2 separate regions of the Homo sapiens genome follow, and region 1 is linked to region 2. A link means that fine-mapping ties the variant in region 2 to the expression of a gene that starts in the linked region. Tissue or cell type: whole blood. Region 2 holds a variant in brackets; the other region holds the start of a gene. All regions are shown on one strand. Distances are from middle to middle.

Region 1 (8,092 bases), 100 kb after region 2:
AGGTTGCTGGGAGGTGCTGAAGGAGGTGGAAGAAGGTCTGAGGGTGGTGGAGGAAGCAAGGAAGCCACCAAAAGCGAAGGCCCTTCAGGCTCTCCTGGGGCTAGGGGAGGACCAGGTCCTCCTGGTGGGGGTAGCAGGGGCTCAGGGGGAGGTTGTCCTCCTCCCCCAGTCAGCACACCAAATAAACTGTGGTTGAGCAATGGAGAAGGTGGAGGCTGCCCCAGACTCAGAGGGAGAGGCAAGGCCCCAAGCATCCCAGGGAAGCCAGCTCCACTCAGTGCCAGGCCCTGCTCAGGGCTGGGGAAAGGGAAAGCCTCTCCACCAGCCAGGGGAGGCAGAGGGCAGGCCGGGCCTGCCCCCATCCCCAGTCCTTCGGATGGGCTTTGAAGCACAGGGCTGGGGACTACTGGGGCTTTGGAGGCAGCTGGTGGGGCAGGGGCACCTGTAAAAGAGGAGAGAAATTCAGCTCAAGGGAGGCCCTTTCTCCCATCATCCAAAGAAGCCAACCTCCCTGCCCCCAACCCAGAAAACCCTCAAAGAGCTCTCTGAACATTCCCCTAAATGCCTTGGCTGCCTCTTTCCAGCCAGGATGAGGAAGGGCTCCACAATACTCACATACCTGGCACACTGCTGAGGCTGCCACTGGTGGTCCCAGGCAGGGAGGGCTGGATGGGGTGCCTGGGCTGGGGAGGGCTCCCTGAGGAGAGGGTTGGGGGAGGAGGAAGGTGTGCATCTGACCCCAAAAGGTTAAAGCTTCCATCAGAGTGGGAAGGGCCAGGGGTGGGGAGTCCCAGCAGGGACAGCACAGAAGGGAGAATTGGTTGGGATGGCTCCGGGAGAGAAAAGGGTTGGGGGACAGGAGCAGGGGCCCGAGGACGGCTCCGTCTAGGGGTTTGAGGGCCTCTCCCTTCTAGCAATCGAAATACAGTAGGGGGTCTGCGGGGACGACGCTGAGAGGGACGAAGTGATGAGGAGTGGGAAGCTGAGGGTGCCTGGGCACGGGGCCTTCGGCCCTGTAAAGTGCTGGGAGGGGGTAGTGGGGGATGCTGTGCCTTGGCCGCTGCAGAGAGTAGGCTGCTAGCAAGGAAGGGGGGTGCCCCAGGCCCCTCCACCGTGGGGGCCCCTCCCAGGGGCCCCAGGACCAGGGGCAGGTGCATAGTGGCTGAAGACACTGGTGGCTGAGAGGCAGGACCAGGGTGGGCGGGGAGATTATTGCTCGGGGGCAGGGGAGGGGGTGTTAAGGCATCACTACAGTGGAAGAGAGGAGGGTCTGAAGGTGGTGAGGAGGAGGCATGAGGGGCCGGAGGAGAGCCCAGGTCAGAGGGCACCAGGCTGGATCTGAGGGCAGCTCCCCAGTTGTATGAGGGAGCATTGAGGCTGATAGCAGGTGGAGGAGGTGGGGCTGGAGAGGGGGCATTGCCCCTTGGGAGGAAACGGGGGCTGCTACTGCCCCCAGAAGGGACTGGGTCAGCAAGCCTTGGGGGGAAAAGCCCCCCAGGGCCTGCTAGAGTGGGAAAGGCCTGGGAAACTGAGGGTGGTTCTGGGGGAAGGGAGCCAGGACCCCCATTAAGTGGAGTTGTAGGAGGAACTCGACAGGGAGGGCGGGCAGAGGGGGGCCCTGGGGACACAGTGTGGAACATTTGGGGGCTCGCTCCCTCTCCTGCAATAAATGAAAAATGAAGGGTCAGCCTGTGGCTCCCCTTCCAAAAACTCTTTTGTCTTCTCTAGTCCCATCTCCCACAAGTTCCCAACCTCCCTGTGCCCTCCTTTCAACATGCAGCTCCCCACCCACTCCCCTTTCTCTTTGCTCCCTCTCAAGGAACTCCTCCCACCACCAGCCTTCCAAGCCCTTAGGTTTTCCTCGGTCTTCTGTAAAGTGGCAGAAGACTCACCAGGAGAAGAGTGTGAGCAGGTGGTCTCCATGCTGCGGTACAGAGTTGCCATAGCAACAGCTTTCCGCCGGTGGTTGCACAGCTTGGTCATGTCCTCCTCTGATGCTGGCCCCACCCCAGCCCCACCCGGGGTCACCGGGGCCAAAGGGTCAAAGTTGAAAACCTGTAAGGTGGAAAGCAAGGACAGGGACCCTGAGGGGCTGGAACCTGTGAGAAGGGCTACCTCAGTCAGTGATTTGCATTAAGACTTTTAGCTTATCTCTGTACTCTCAGGCGCCCCTCACCACTCTGACCTTGGGGACATTAAGTGGACACTCCAGACCGCACTTGCAGGTCCCATCGCTGAGGAGGTAGCTCCGGGTTTGCTCCAAGGAAGACAGCTCTGTGCCACTTGGACTGCGAGAGGACAGGGTCAGAGGACATGGGGTTAGCTGGCAGCGAATCAGGCAATACTCCTAAAGCACAGTGCTTAAGTTACAGATCCTCCTAGAAGAACAGAGGATAAGGAATGTGGGAAGACACAGAAAAAGGGAGAATGGATTCAAAGGCCCAGAGCTACAGAAAGCAAAAAGGCTGAGGAAGGAAGGGGAAGAGAGGAGAGCAATCGGGTACCAGAGAGCTGAGCTGAGAGAAGAAACGGAAGAAAGAAAACCTGGGCAACTGGAGTGGCAGAGCTTGGGGACCTGTGAAGATCCGTACCTGATGTAGAGCACAGCACCCTCTCGCACACAGCGCTGCCAGCCGATGGGGACAGATGTGGCCACAGGGCCCCCAGCTCTGTCTGCTCCACTGCTCTCATTGCCCCCATTCATTGTGTGTAATCAGCTCCCGCGTGCCTGATAACACAGACATCCATGTAGGCACTAGGAGGATTAAACTGAGCGAAGTACCTGAGAGAGGACTCCAGGAAGGCAAAGGTTGTGGGGAGACCCAAGAAAACTCAGGGGAAGCCCCAGAGGAGCAAGGGGAACCCCTCAGCTGGGAGGGAGACTGAGGAGTCCTCTGCCGTATCACCACAGCTACCTGAACATCTCTGCAAACATTGTGGGGTCCAGTCTAAAGCCGGGGCCACCAGCTTAGCCCACACCTGCAACGCAAGTAGAGAGATGGGACTGTCAGGAGTCTGCCCAACTCTAAAGAGCAGCACAGCCCAGCACCCTCTCAAAAGAAAGATCCTTAACAATGTGAGGCAAGCACCTATAAAGATCTCGGGGATCTGCTGGCTTAGTCTACAACCATCCTTTCCAAGCCCAGTCCCTAGGGACCAGAGGGTCAGAACCTCAGCTCCCTGGGACCAAGAAAGTCTAGCCCAATTCTTAGGCATATGAAGGGCAAGGCCTCCCTCCATTCGGAGTAGAAGACTTCAACCAGGAGTATGGGCACATTCCCATAATGCTAGGCCACTAGGAAGTTTCCCAGAGTGTCTGGCTCCTGTTGTTCTCTACCCAGGAAGATGATATAAAAAGTACAGATTGCCCCACAGGTCACCAGGCAATTGCCCAACTGCCCGCTGGGGTGGTACCAGCAGAACTCCCCCCATGCCTGCTCCATCAGACAATCGCTGATATAGTTCATTCGGGTCTTAAGAGGTGAGGATCACAGCTCAGTCTTCTCCCAGGATCCTGGGAAGCTCCTGATTTTCCCTCAAGCCTACGGCAAAGGGATTCAGAACCTCCTATTCCACTGGCTTCCGATTATCTCCAAGAGAGCCTGTCCTCCGATAGAAGGGGAAGCCCCTCCAACCTGCAGGTATCCTCCCCAGCCTCACCATTGCTCCCACCCCACACTGGCGGCTTCCAAACTTTCCCTCTCACAACAAGGCGCCCTGTCACCCAGACTGCTTCCCTCAGCTTGAGGAGGAGGGGAAGGCGCACGAAGTAGGAAGGAACTTGGGGAGAGGGCGGGCGGAGGGTGGGCGAAGCACTGAGGGGAGGGCGGTGAGGAAGGCAGAAGTCTGGCAGTGAGAGGGAGAAGCGGCGGGGGCAGGTGAGGGCGGGGGAGTGGGGATGGGGCCGGGGAAAGGGGCCGAGAGGACGCGGAGGGGGCAGAGGGTAGGGACGGGAGGGGGAGGGGCAGGGTGGGGGGGGCCGGGCCCCGCACTCACCGCGGCCCATGGTTCGGCCGGCCCCGCCCTGCGCAGTCGCGGCCCAGAGGGTGAGTGGGAGGGGGTGGGAGGAGGGTCGGTGGAGCCCGAGCCTCCGGTACGGCCCCGGCCGGTCCTAGCAGGAAGCGCCGCTGCCGCCGCCGCGGATCACCGAGCGGCCTCCCGCGCATGCGCCATGGGGGCCAGGGGCAGCCCTGGGGATTCCGTTCCCAGAAGGCACTGCGCAGGCTGCTGCCGCTGCCGCCGCCGCCGTCGCTGCCGCAGCCGCCGCCGCAGGAGCCGCCGCCTCCGCCGCTGCCCGGACGGGAGAGGGGCGGGGCCGGGCCCCCGCCCAGCGGACAGCGACGAGCCAACTGGAGGGGCTGCAGTGCGCATGCGGGAGCGCGCCTACCCCTCCCCCACAACCCCCCATTAATCCCCAAGAGAACAAACACCCCACGCGGCCCCCCCGCCCTCCGCGGAAGGATCTGCGCCTCTTCCCAGGCCACTGGTGGCCAATCCCAGCCCTCCTCAGGGAGGGGCCCCTTCCAAAGCCACAGTCTGTTGCGGGAACCAGGAATGCCAGGTCCGGGAGGGGCCAGGCCCCGAAAGATGAAAGTCGCGACTTGCCCTGCCCCGCCCCAAAGGCTTCCCGGGTAGTGTGCTGGGACTTGACCCGCCTCCCCAGGTCAACATGTCACAACACGACCTCAGCCTGTCAAGTCACATGACCTCTGCCTGTCACTGACAACCTGGTCTGTCTTTAGGCCAGGGGAGACCATCTGGTCCACCCTCCACACTACCCCCATTTTCAGAGAGGAAATGGAGGTGTGGAGCAGCGGAGCAGCCTAACCAAAGACCTGTCATTGCCACACCACTCCAGTCACAACCGGCCTTGTGACAGTTTCTACTTAAACTCTGGCTGCCCCCATGAGGGTATGACAGGATATGTAACAGGCCACCACATGGCCTCTGTTTTCAAGGCACAAGAAAAATACTTTGCATTCTGGGTGGTGCGTTTTACTTTTGGTCAAGTTGCCTCCAAGTTCATGGTTCTCATTTTACCTTCACAACTTTTATCTTTAATTTACAAACAAGGACGGTAAGATCCCTTGGCAAGTGATGGGGAGTTGAGTCTAAAATCGCGGCTCCGGTCTCCCCAGTCCAGGGCAGTCCTGCGCTGAAGTGCACTCACACGTCCCGGGATGAGACTCCGCTGTAAATCTCGACCCGAACACCTAGGAGGCAGGCCTGTGCCGCGCTCCTCACACAGGGAGTCACAGGACTTGCTGTCTGGTACAGCAAGAGAGGGTCTTGGAGAAAGCCATAGGAGTACCGTGGGGGAAAATAGGTGGCCAAACAGAATCGGGTCCACTGGGCAAAATACATGACTTCTGGCAGGCTGAGGGCTTACCAACTACAAGGTAAAAGTCAAGGGCGCTGTTCTGAGAGAAGCGGAAAATGACTACCAAGGGATTCCAGTACCTCGGCCCCTTTTGGGAGATTTACGGGGCTAGAACAGGAGACCACCCCCGTTTTTTTGTTTGTTTGTTTTGTTTTTTGTTTTTGGTGAAACGTAGTCTCGCTCTGTCACCCAGGCTGGAGTGCAGTGGCGCGATCTCGGTCACTGCAACATCCGCCTCCAGGGTTCAAGCGATTCTTCTGCCTCTGCCTCCAGAGTAGCTGGGATTACAGGCGCGCATCACCACACCCGGCTAATTTTTGTATTTTTAGTAGAGACGGGGTTTCACCATGTTGGTCAGGCTGATCTCGAACTCCTGACCTCAAGTGATCCGCTCTCCTCAGCCTCCCAAAGTGCTGGGATTACAGGCGTAAGCCACTGAGCCCGGCCAGGAGACCTCTTTAAGAAGACTCGAGATGTCGACAATCCCAGTGGATGGATACCAACTTTAAAAAGAAAAGTTCAAAAGGCCTATGTGCCCATTAGCTGGGAGGGGCCAAGAAATATGGGAGTCCCTTATAGTGGGGGTAAAACGGCGGGTAAAGCTAGGTGGGCGGAACAGCAGCTTCTGGGGGAGACAAGCGGCAAAGAGGCTCACGACCGACTAGGGGCGACCAAGGCTGATAGCCGTTGGGGCCGTTGGGCGCCGGGAGCTGGCGCCCCGCCCTCTCTCCTCTCCCCCACCCTCCGCACCTCCCACCACCCTCGGTGTCCCCTGCGCGTGCGCGTGCAGACACCGGTTGCCAAACATTGCATCATCCCCGCCCCCCTTTCCTCCCCTCCCCCCCCGCTACACTCCCCTCCGCGCGCGCGCATGACTCACCCACCTCCTCCGTGAAGCCTCGTGACCCAAAGCCACTTCCGGGTCCGACACTACGTCGACCCCCTAGCGAGAGGGAGCGACGGGGGCGGTGCCGCGGGGCTCCTGAGTGGCGGATGCGAGGGACGGGGCGGGGCCAATGCCGGCGTGCCACTTTCTGATTGGTAGGTTTTGGGGTCCCGCCCCTGAGAGGAGGGCAAGGCCATGGTAAAAGATTACAGCCAGGCGCTCCCGAGGTCAGAGACTTAAGTCTAAGGCACTGAGCGTATCATGTTAAAGATGAGCGGGTGGCAGCGACAGAGCCAAAATCAGAGCTGGAACCTGAGGAGAGAGGCGAGTACTGATTCCCATCTACCTTTTACCCTCCCGTCTCCTCAAAGTTGGGGCGTCCGCTCTTTAGGATCGGCCTCACTCCTCCACAGTGAAGTTAGGGACCGTCCGAGAGAGGAATGGGGAGAGTCCCTTATTCTGGGGTGGTGCTTACAAACCCCTATTGCTTCGGACGACGGCGTCTCTCCACCCCTGCCCGGAGCCGGAACACGGGCCCTGCTCTGTGCTGCTGGGCAAAGGGACCTCGGTTGCCCTTGGGAAATTCATTCTTTCCCGTAGCCAACTTCAGGCCTCATCGTTAGGCCTGTCCGCGGGGAGGCAGGTCAGCAGGACACACCCCCGCTCTAAGACTGGGTGACCATCGCTCAGGCCGTTTCCGCCGCTTCGCCACCAGCGGGCCTTCTCCCTACCCCACCCCCAATTCTGTCTCAGTCTCAGTGCCTCTGGTGTCAGCATGGCCACCTTGGTAGCTGGGGCTACTGGACCCTGCAGCGGATAGGGGAACCTTGAGGAGACACAAGCCTTTGGGAGGGGTGCCGATGGACAGGGAGTGGTGTGTTTTCCTTTTGCCGTAGAGGTCTCTGGGCCTCCTGCACAAGAGAGCAGCCTGGATCTCTTAAGTGTAGGAGGCCATTTGGGGTCTCCCCAGGGTATTGTCCTTCCCTCGGGATTAGTCCCTGCCTCTTTAACCCGGTCCTGTCTCCCAGCTAATCTCTGTGTAACCATTGCATCAGGCCAGCCCCGTTTGGCTCTGCAGCCTTCTGACCTGAGGCTCTACTGCTGATGAAAGCCAAGTCCCACACACTGGAAGGCAAGGGAGGGTTCCCCAGGGAGGACAGCCCTGCAGAGAAATACTTCGGGCAATATTGCATCTCTAGCCCCTAGGGATCAGCAGCTGCCACTCTGCTTCTGCCCCTTCCCTATAAGAGAGACTGGGGGGAGTTTATCCATTCATTCTTAACAAATACTTAATGAGGACCTACTGTGTGCCACACAGTTTGGGGCTCAGGGTACATCCTTGAGCAAGAGGAAAAAATCATCTCAGTGGGAGGCCTACAGTAAACAAAATATAAGTGCCACGGAGAAAGCTAAAGCAGAGAAAGGAATGGAGAATGTTCAGGATGGAGGTCAGAGTGTTACATCAGGTGGTCAGGAATTACCTTAGGTAATTCCTCCACTCAAAACCCTTCAGTGACTTCCATGACATGAAATAGGAAGTCATTGGAGGGTTTGAGCAGAGGAATGACCTGTTTTAAAAGGCTCACTCAGGCTGCTGTATGGTGAATAGAGTTGCGGAGGGGTGGCAAGAGAAGAAATGGGAAGACCTTCTGCAGTCAGAAAGTTTCTGCAGTAATTTAGAGATGGTAGTGAATTGATCTAGATTGGAAACAATGGAATTAGAAGTGTTTAGATTCTTCTAAGCAAAGGTTTTAAAAACTCATTTTTAAAGAATGAGTTAAGGGCCGGGCATGGTGGCTCACACCTGTAATCCCAGCACTTTGGGA
Region 2 (8,077 bases):
AAAAGAGGCCTAAAAGCCCTCTTTGCTTCTCCCCAAAGCTGGTTTGTTGCACTAAGTTTGCTTCCACCTTAGGGCCTTTGCACTTTCTATTTTCTCAGCCTGGAATGCTCTTCCCCAGATTTTTGCAGACTGGCTTCTTCTTGTCATTTAGATCTCAGTTCAAATGCCTCCTCTTCACTATCACATTACTTGTTTGTCTTATTTTCCACTCAATACTTACCAGTATCTGAATTTTTTAATTTACTTAGCCTGGCACCAGACTGACTAGGTTGCTATCAGTTTTGTTGCTTAATAGTTGTGTAAATGTGGCAAGTTACTTTTCTGTGTCTCAGCTTTTTTTTCTGTTGTAGGAATCTACTTAATAGGGCTATCATGGGGATAAAATGAGTGCATATATTTAAGGTAATTTTTTAACGGGTCTGGCACATAGTAAGTGCTCAATAAAGATTAGCTTTTACTTAAAATTTTCTTTGTTGTTTTTTCTCCTACCCATTAGAATGTAAGTTCCATAAAGGTAAGAACCTTCTGTTCTTGTCCACCAAGGCCTAGAAAGGTGGGACACAGAGTAGGCACTTAAATATTGATTGGCTGAAAACAGAATGTTATCCCACCCTTCAGGGTCAAATGCCATGTCCTTTCTTCCCAGTCCGGTTCTCCACCGAGGGACATGAGGCTGCTTTCACTATCCGCATAAGACACCCGCCCAACCCTCGGCTGTACCCACCTGGGTCTCTACCCCAGGGAGGTGAGGCTGGTAGGGGCAGGGACATATTAGAACCAGCCTTGGTGGGGAGCAAGTTGGGAGAGGGCAGTCCTGGGAGGGGATATCTACCTGTTCCCCTCTCCCAACCCTCCTTGTCTGCACCCAACCCTGTGCCCCCAATCTCAGCCCAGTACAACATCAGCGCTCTAGTCACGATTGCCACCAAGACCTTCCTCCGTTATGATCGGCTACGGGCTCTCATCACCAGTATCCGCCGCTTCTACCCAACGGTTACCGTGGTCATCGCTGACGACAGCGACAAGCCAGAGCGCGTTAGTGGCCCCTACGTGGAACACTATCTCATGCCCTTCGGCAAGGTGTGCAGCTAGCAGGCTGAACGGCAGGCCAGAGGACTCCCGCAGGGGGTGTGCCCTCAATCTGCAGCCTCCAGGGTAGTGATTCGAGGACCACCTGCCTCAGAATCATGGGGTGCCTGTTAAGCATGAGGATTCCTGGAATGTAAGCTTCGTGGGAGCAGGAAATTCTCTCTGAATTCTTAGAATGGTGCTTAGTGCCTAATGGCATTCAATAAAATAGCTGATGAATGAATAAATAAATGCACACGGAAATTAAACGCATTCTAAGACCACTGACTTGGAACCTCTGTGGGGATCTGCATTTCTTTTACCTAGCTCCTGGCCTTTCGAAAGCACTCAAAAGTCTGGAGAAGAATACAAGCTGAGAAGGGTCGGGGGAGAGAAAGAAAGGTGGCAGAGGGCCATGTCCTATTTCTGCAGCCTCCCCAACCACACACACCTTTCTGCCAGGGCTGGTTCGCAGGCCGGAACCTGGCCGTGTCTCAAGTAACCACCAAGTACGTGCTGTGGGTGGACGACGACTTCGTCTTCACGGCGCGGACGCGGCTGGAGAGGCTTGTGGACGTGCTGGAGCGGACGCCGCTGGACCTGGTAGGGCAGGGGCTGCAGGATGTGGGGGTGGAGAAGGGCCTTGAACAGGCTAAGGCCACAGCGGGGGCGCTGCGGCCAGGAACGGCCAGCCCTAGGACAAAGAGAGAACCACGAAGTGGGGCCTGGGAACTGTCTGGGTCCTGCAGGGGTGAAGCGGAAGAGGATGGGGCAGGGGTACCCCCGAAGGCACCGGAGCGCAGACCTTGACCCCTTCGGGTCCCCTATCCCAGGCCCGCCTGGAGGCAACCTCCCTCTCCCTGCAGGTGGGGGGCGCGGTGCGCGAGATCTCCGGCTTTGCCACCACTTATCGGCAGCTGCTGAGCGTGGAGCCCGGCGCCCCAGGCCTCGGGAACTGCCTCCGGCAAAGGCGCGGCTTCCACCACGAGCTCGTCGGCTTCCCAGGCTGCGTGGTCACCGACGGCGTGGTTAACTTCTTCCTGGCGCGGACTGACAAGGTGCGCGAGGTCGGTTTCGACCCCCGCCTCAGCCGCGTGGCTCATCTGGGTGAGTGGCACCCCCTCCCGGTCGACCCTGGCAGGAGCCCCACGGGGAGCTGGCGCACGGTCACGCGCCTCTCCTCCTAGGCTGCACCCGCGCCCAGCCGCCAGCGGGAACCCCAGAACAGTTCTGCAGTGATTTACCAAGACCTGCACCTGGGCGAGAGACAGCTCCCACCCTCTCCCAGCCCCGCATACTCTTTTTTTTTTTTTATAAATATATATATTTTTTGTTATACTTTAAGTTCTAGGGTACATGTGCACAACGTGCAGGTTTGTTACATGTGTATACATGTGCCATGTTGAATCTCCATTCCCAGCACAGCCGCTGGGCCCCCATAAGCTTCCCCATCACTGTTCCCGCCACCCCTGCTCTACTCCCAGGGCTTCCCCTAGTTCAGACCACAGTCGGTGCAACCCATCTGGCGTTTATTTAACCTCTGGGAGTAGGGGTAGGTTTTTCGATTTTCAAAGCACAAGTATATTGACTCCATTTACACAAGAGTAAGACTGAGACCCAGGGAGTTGATTTACATGCTCAGGGTCCTTAGAAACAAGCCTTTGCACACACACTTTCCACACCCTAAATTTGAGAGTTCTCCCTTACCAGTCGGCCTTCTGCACCCTCAGGATCCCTCACTGTGTACTCCCCTCCACCCCCAGAATTCTTCTTGGATGGGCTTGGTTCCCTTCGGGTTGGCTCCTGCTCCGACGTCGTGGTGGATCATGCATCCAAACTGAAGCTGCCTTGGACATCAAGGGATGCCGGAGCAGAGACTTACGCCCGGTACCGTTACCCAGGATCACTGGACGAGAGCCAGATGGCCAAACACCGGCTGCTCTTCTTCAAACACCGGCTGCAGTGCATGACCTCCCAGTGATGGCCCGCTGGGGATTTCTGACTGTCAGGCTGGGCCTGCCTCCTTGTCCCTGCCAGGAATTTCCAACAAACCCCACCACCCTGTGAGCACTCTACTGGCTGTCCCTGAGCCTCTAGTTCCTCACTCTTCCTTTTCAGAACCTGATGCCCAGTAGGGGTTGTCCTGGTGACACCCCTCCTTTTTCCAGTGCCCAGAGGCCTGGTGGAGCCATAACCTCTCCCACAGCCAGTGCCAAGTCCTCCCCCTGCCCATTCTCATGGGGCAGGAAATGGGGGGATCACTTTCCAAGTGCCAAAGAGCCCAGAGGGACTCTAAGAACCTAAGGTGGAAACACTGTCCTCTCATCTTGGGACCGAGGGGGTGGGGAAGTTCCCCAACACATAATCCCAAGACTGTGCCCCTCATCTGCATCTTCAGATCCAGTACTCTGTGTACCTGCTCCAGCCCCACCCCCACAGAGAGAACTTGTGGCTCTGGGGCTGGGGTGAGGGCTGGTGGTTGGTGAAAGCCATTCTTAGTTGTGTCTCTGCAATGCTGTGGGCACAAAAGAAGGGGCACCAGAGTCCCTGTGCAAACACCTAGACTCACTTCATGGATTCCAAAGCTCTCAGCTTCATTTTATTAGTTACGTTAGGTAAGGGGGTTCAAGGGTCATGGTCCTCATCACACACATGTCATCAGGGCCCTCTGCACTCCACATGATGAGGTCAGACCCACACGGTGCAAATCTTTGGGTCAGTGAGCTCCTGGAGAAGAGAGGAGACATGTCAGGAATAGATTAGGCACCCCTCTTCCTTAATGAAATGTGGCAGTCCTCTCAGGGGTACCCCACCTACTTAGGGATCTGAGTTCTTCAGTTCCTCACCCATAGCTCAGCCCGGGCTCCCTGATTTGGTCTTCAATCTACTATTCATTCCGTCCCCACCCTTTTCTTCTTGATCTTCCTCAGACCCTTTCCCAAACCCCTCTCCCTGGGTCTCCAGCCACTTACCCCTGCCTCACTTGCCGCAGCCCAGTGCCTCCTGGCTCCCGCTCCTGGTGCTACTGCCCCTTAACAGGCTCCCCAGGGCATAAGCAGCTGCATCCTGCACACTCACAAACAGCTGATCTGGAGTCACCCTGTCCAGGAGTCCTACCCGGGTCAGTGTCCCCTGCACCAAGGCTATGTGGGGAGGGTGTCAGACTCTGAGACCCTAAGTCCACACCGGGTCCTTTTCCCTACCGCAGGTGTCCAGTCATTGCCCAGGCACTGGGCCCCGCTCTTCTCCACACATCTCACCATTACACTGAGCCAGGAGGAGGCGGATCCTAGCATCTCGACATC[G/A]GCTGGCCAGCTGCAGGGATGGGGCAAAGGGGTTAAGTCCCAGATCAGAGGGTATGAGTGAGATGCTAAGGGGTTTCTCCTCAACCTACCCTCTCCCTCACCTGCACCACTTCTCTGGCCCCAGCAGCATCTGCAAAGGTGACACCACTGAAGTCTAGGACCACCACCCTGACAGGCTCAGCAACTAGAATGGGAGAAGACAGGAGTACCCAGGTGTCACCATGCAACATGCCCAAATCTTCCTTCTTGTCACCCCATCTCACCTGCAACCATTGGGCCATCTGGCTTTGAAGTCTCCTATAAGTAAAGAAGGGCAGTCACCACTCCCGAAACACAGCATGAACATGCACCCCTTGAGCACAAGGATCCCCCTCAGAACACCCACCTGCCTCCCACTCCCTGAGGATCCACATCCCTCCTAAACCAAGCTCCTTCACCTTTTCTCCTTCTCCGAGCCCCAGGTGCCACTCCAGGTTGCAGCGAAACTGCCCACGGGTCCCAAAGTACAGTGGTGTTGGATAGCTCAGGATGCAGAGCCCCGGGACCTGGAGGAGCTAAGAGGTCAAAGGATCAGAGAAATGTCTGGGGCTAATCTTCCCTTCCTTCTTTGGCTGCAGCCCACCCACCCTGGGGCTTCCTCTGAGTGGTCTGTAGAGCTCTGTCCCCTCAGCCTGTCCAAGTGCCAGGCACTACACCCTAGGGAAGAAGGTGGGGCCAGATTTCCAGCTTAGCCTGGCCTGGCTGGAGAGTCACCCCAAGCACCTCATTCTCTTCCCCTGCCCCGACCTCAACTCCACTCATCTCTATGCCCACCTCCGGGTGCGGCAGACCACAGTCATCATGGAGAAGACCACACCCACAGCCAGGCCCAAATCCACACTCAGGGTCACTACTGCCACCCAGGTGACCATCCACACAGCCTGCAGGATAGGGATAGGGGTGGATTGCCCAAAAGAAAAGCCAGGCCATCACTGCTGGGTAAAGAGATCCAGGGCAGTGACTACCAAGGCAAGTGATGGGGAGAGATGATCCAGGAAGAAGTGGAAAGCATGACAGAAGGAAACAACAGGGTTGATTCAATGGGACACACACCAAATGTAATGACCCGCACCAGTTGGGAAGTTACAAATATTCAGGCCAAAGGGGTTCAAACCCCATCCTTTCCCTTGCCTGTGAGTAAAGCATACTAGGAGTTATGTTTGCTGGGGGAGTGGGTGGGTTGCAGAACTTAAGACCAGGACAATTAGGTTTGGTTCAGGGCAGAGGCTGGGGATGCTAACAAGATGAGAGGGGGCAATCTGGGGGTAATGGCATTTCTCACAAAGTCCACTCGGCTGATGTGCCATAGTTGTGGAAGTTCCTGCATCTGGCAGAACACCTGGCGCATGCTGGAGATGTTGATGCAAGCCAGGACAGCCTTGAGGCAGAGGAGGTGGGCTGACTACCTCGATGTCCTGGAATACAGCTACCCCTCCCAGCCATGCTCATGCCTCCTCTGCTCATTACCTTGGGCAGATAGTAAAAGAAGGGCCCCAGCCACAGCAGCACCGACAGGACCACTGTGCAGGAGAAGAGGCCTGCCAGCTAGAGAAAAGGAGGAACAGGAGCAAAAAAGGAAGAGAGCCTCCCACCCCCACATGAGAGCTGGTCTTCCTGCCCACTCTGCCTAATCTTCCTCGGAAGTCTCCCTTCTCCCAAATCTCCTTCCACACAACCCCCTTCTTAATATTCTGCCATTCACATCTAACCCTCCCGCTCCCCCCAATTAATTAAATGCCCATTATTCACCAGTCTCCTTGTAGATGTCCATTGTTCAAGTTCCCCAGTTTTGTAGCCCACCTCCACCTTAAAAGCCACTGTTGGGTTACCCTATAAGCAGGGTATATGTGTTTAGGGCACCAGCAAAGTAAGGGAAACCAAAAATATTAGGGGGAGACTTTGATATGTGATATTCCTTTTAAAAGACAATGTCATTGTGTGAAAAAAATAAGAATTTTATCTCTTAAGTTTATTTTATAGTTTTGTGTTTTTATTTTGAACCACACCTGGGGCACCATAAACTTTTTCAGCGCTTAGAGCCTACAAAGGTCTTACTGGAACATTGTTATCTTCCATCTCTCCTATCTATAATTCCATCCCCTCAGTCACCCTTTCTCACAGATCCCCAGTCTTCTCTATATAGGTGCCACCTGGGATTCTAGCCATCTTCCACCTGTTTCTCCACCACCGCCACCTTGCCTGGATGGCCCATCCTTTCTCCTCATCCAAGGATGCCCTCTTACCTGTGTTTTCCCACCAGCATCCACCAGTAGATTGGTGGTGGCCAGCGTAGCCGAGTTGGGAAAGCAAGAGAAGAGGGAGGAGATGAGGTTGGAGGCACCATGTGCCAGGAACTCCTGGAGGGATACAGTGAGATGAAGTGGGAGAGACAAAGGCATGGTGGGAAGTCAAATGAGAGGGTTGGGGTCCACAGTCAGAGTCCCACCTGGTTGGAGTCAATAGTGTAGCTATACTTGTCTGCATGGATGGAGGCCAGGGAGGCAGACACCGCAAAACTAACCAGTGCAATGGGCAGCGAGTCAGCCAGAATCCTGGGCAGCTCAGCCAGGTTGGGGAGGAGGGGTTGGGGAAATCTGGAGAGGGAGGGATCCATGGTGAGGAGGGGTTAGGTGCTTCAGTGAGATAAGGAAGGCAGAGAAAATGGGGGGTGGAGATAAGAGGGAGTGTTGGGTGGGAGAGGTGGGAGAAGAGAAAGCTGGCATCTTTTCATTCTCTTACCCTCCAGGCAACAGCCCCACTATCTGGACTTGGTATCTTGTGTCCACAGAAGAGGTGAAGCAGAGCACGGAGGCCAGAAGCACCTGAAAAAGAGAGCAAAATGAAGGCATGGGAAGAGATGGGGTCCCTGGCAGAAGCTAGAAGGGGCTGACCATGAGAGAGGACCATAATGCAGGCCTAGCTGGCTGCAGGAGCCCAGCACCTGGGGGAGCGGGGATGTGTTTGGGATGAGGGCCTGACAACTGATTTGTAGTGTAGAGCTGGGAAAGAGGGATGACATATGCCTGAGGCCACAGAGCCTGGAGCCGTGGAAGTAAGAGGACGCTTCTGTGAAGGATGGTGGATATGAAGAGATGCCACTGAGCCTTCCAAAGAGGGAAGCTGGACGATATCTAGTGATATACTGGCATCTGTGGAGACGCGGAACGTTTATTTAGTTGGGGAGAGAGAGAAATGTCGGTGGAGGGTGGAGAGGGAGATGCACTGTGAATTACAGGGAAGGACCCTGGTGAGGACAGATGTCAGAGAAGGTGCTGTGACCAGCAAGACCTCAAGGGAGCGCTGTAGGATGGCAGAGGAAACTCCAAGAGGTCTAGGGGGTGCTCCGTGAGAGACGTGGGACAGTGTCGAGGGGGGCTGTGGAAGGTCAAAGCGTCCTTCTGCAGGAGGCCAAGGAAAGTGTGAGCCGGCCCTCTGTTCCGTGGCCTCTCTGCACTCCACCAGGGGGCGGCAGCGGCCAGTTCCCACAGGACCGCAGGGTCTGCGCGGGCAGGGGGCCGGCGCGCACGGCCATCCTCACCAAGACGACTTCCCCCGGGATCGGCGTGGGTAGCCGGTCTCGGAATCTCACGTTCAATTCCTTGACCGGCACGAGCAGCGCCAGGCTGAGCGCGGAGATGGTCAGTTCGGCCGGACTGCTCCGAGGC

What was found. PIP is the estimated chance that this variant, and not a neighbour inherited with it, causes the effect.
Region 1: it holds the start of MBD6, and the variant in region 2 is fine-mapped to the expression of MBD6 in whole blood (TOPMed, PIP above 0.99).

Annotation. Positions count from the first base shown.
Region 1 is chr12:57,518,916-57,527,007 of GRCh38, reverse strand. It overlaps MBD6 (methyl-CpG binding domain protein 6), which reads right to left and starts at 4,184. Exons shown (of 13, transcript NM_052897.4): 1 at 3,997-4,184; 2 at 2,916-2,979; 3 at 2,592-2,728; 4 at 2,186-2,288; 5 at 1,893-2,055; 6 at 620-1,660; 7 at 1-442. The coding sequence starts at 2,704. DDIT3 (DNA damage inducible transcript 3) reads left to right here and starts at 6,494. Exons shown (of 4, transcript NM_004083.6): 1 at 6,494-6,590. LOC128125814 reads left to right here and starts at 6,528. Exons shown (of 2, transcript NM_001414991.1): 1 at 6,528-6,590. The coding sequence starts at 6,528. It overlaps MIR616 (microRNA 616), which reads left to right and starts at 7,749; the gene lies at 7,749-7,845. RefSeq lists silencers at 3,953-4,352, 6,067-6,526 and enhancers at 4,613-4,752, 3,816-4,775, 4,873-4,942, 5,033-5,142, 4,776-5,736 and 4 more.
Region 2 is chr12:57,621,716-57,629,792 of GRCh38, reverse strand. B4GALNT1 (beta-1,4-N-acetyl-galactosaminyltransferase 1) reads left to right here. Exons shown (of 11, transcript NM_001478.5): 7 at 647-745; 8 at 890-1,080; 9 at 1,531-1,671; 10 at 1,935-2,175; 11 at 2,832-6,384. The coding sequence ends at 3,049. LOC101927583 (a long non-coding RNA gene) reads left to right here and starts at 7,890. Exons shown (of 4, transcript NR_120450.1): 1 at 7,890-8,077. It also overlaps the pseudogene SLC26A10P. The variant G/A (reference allele first, on the strand shown) is at 4,374.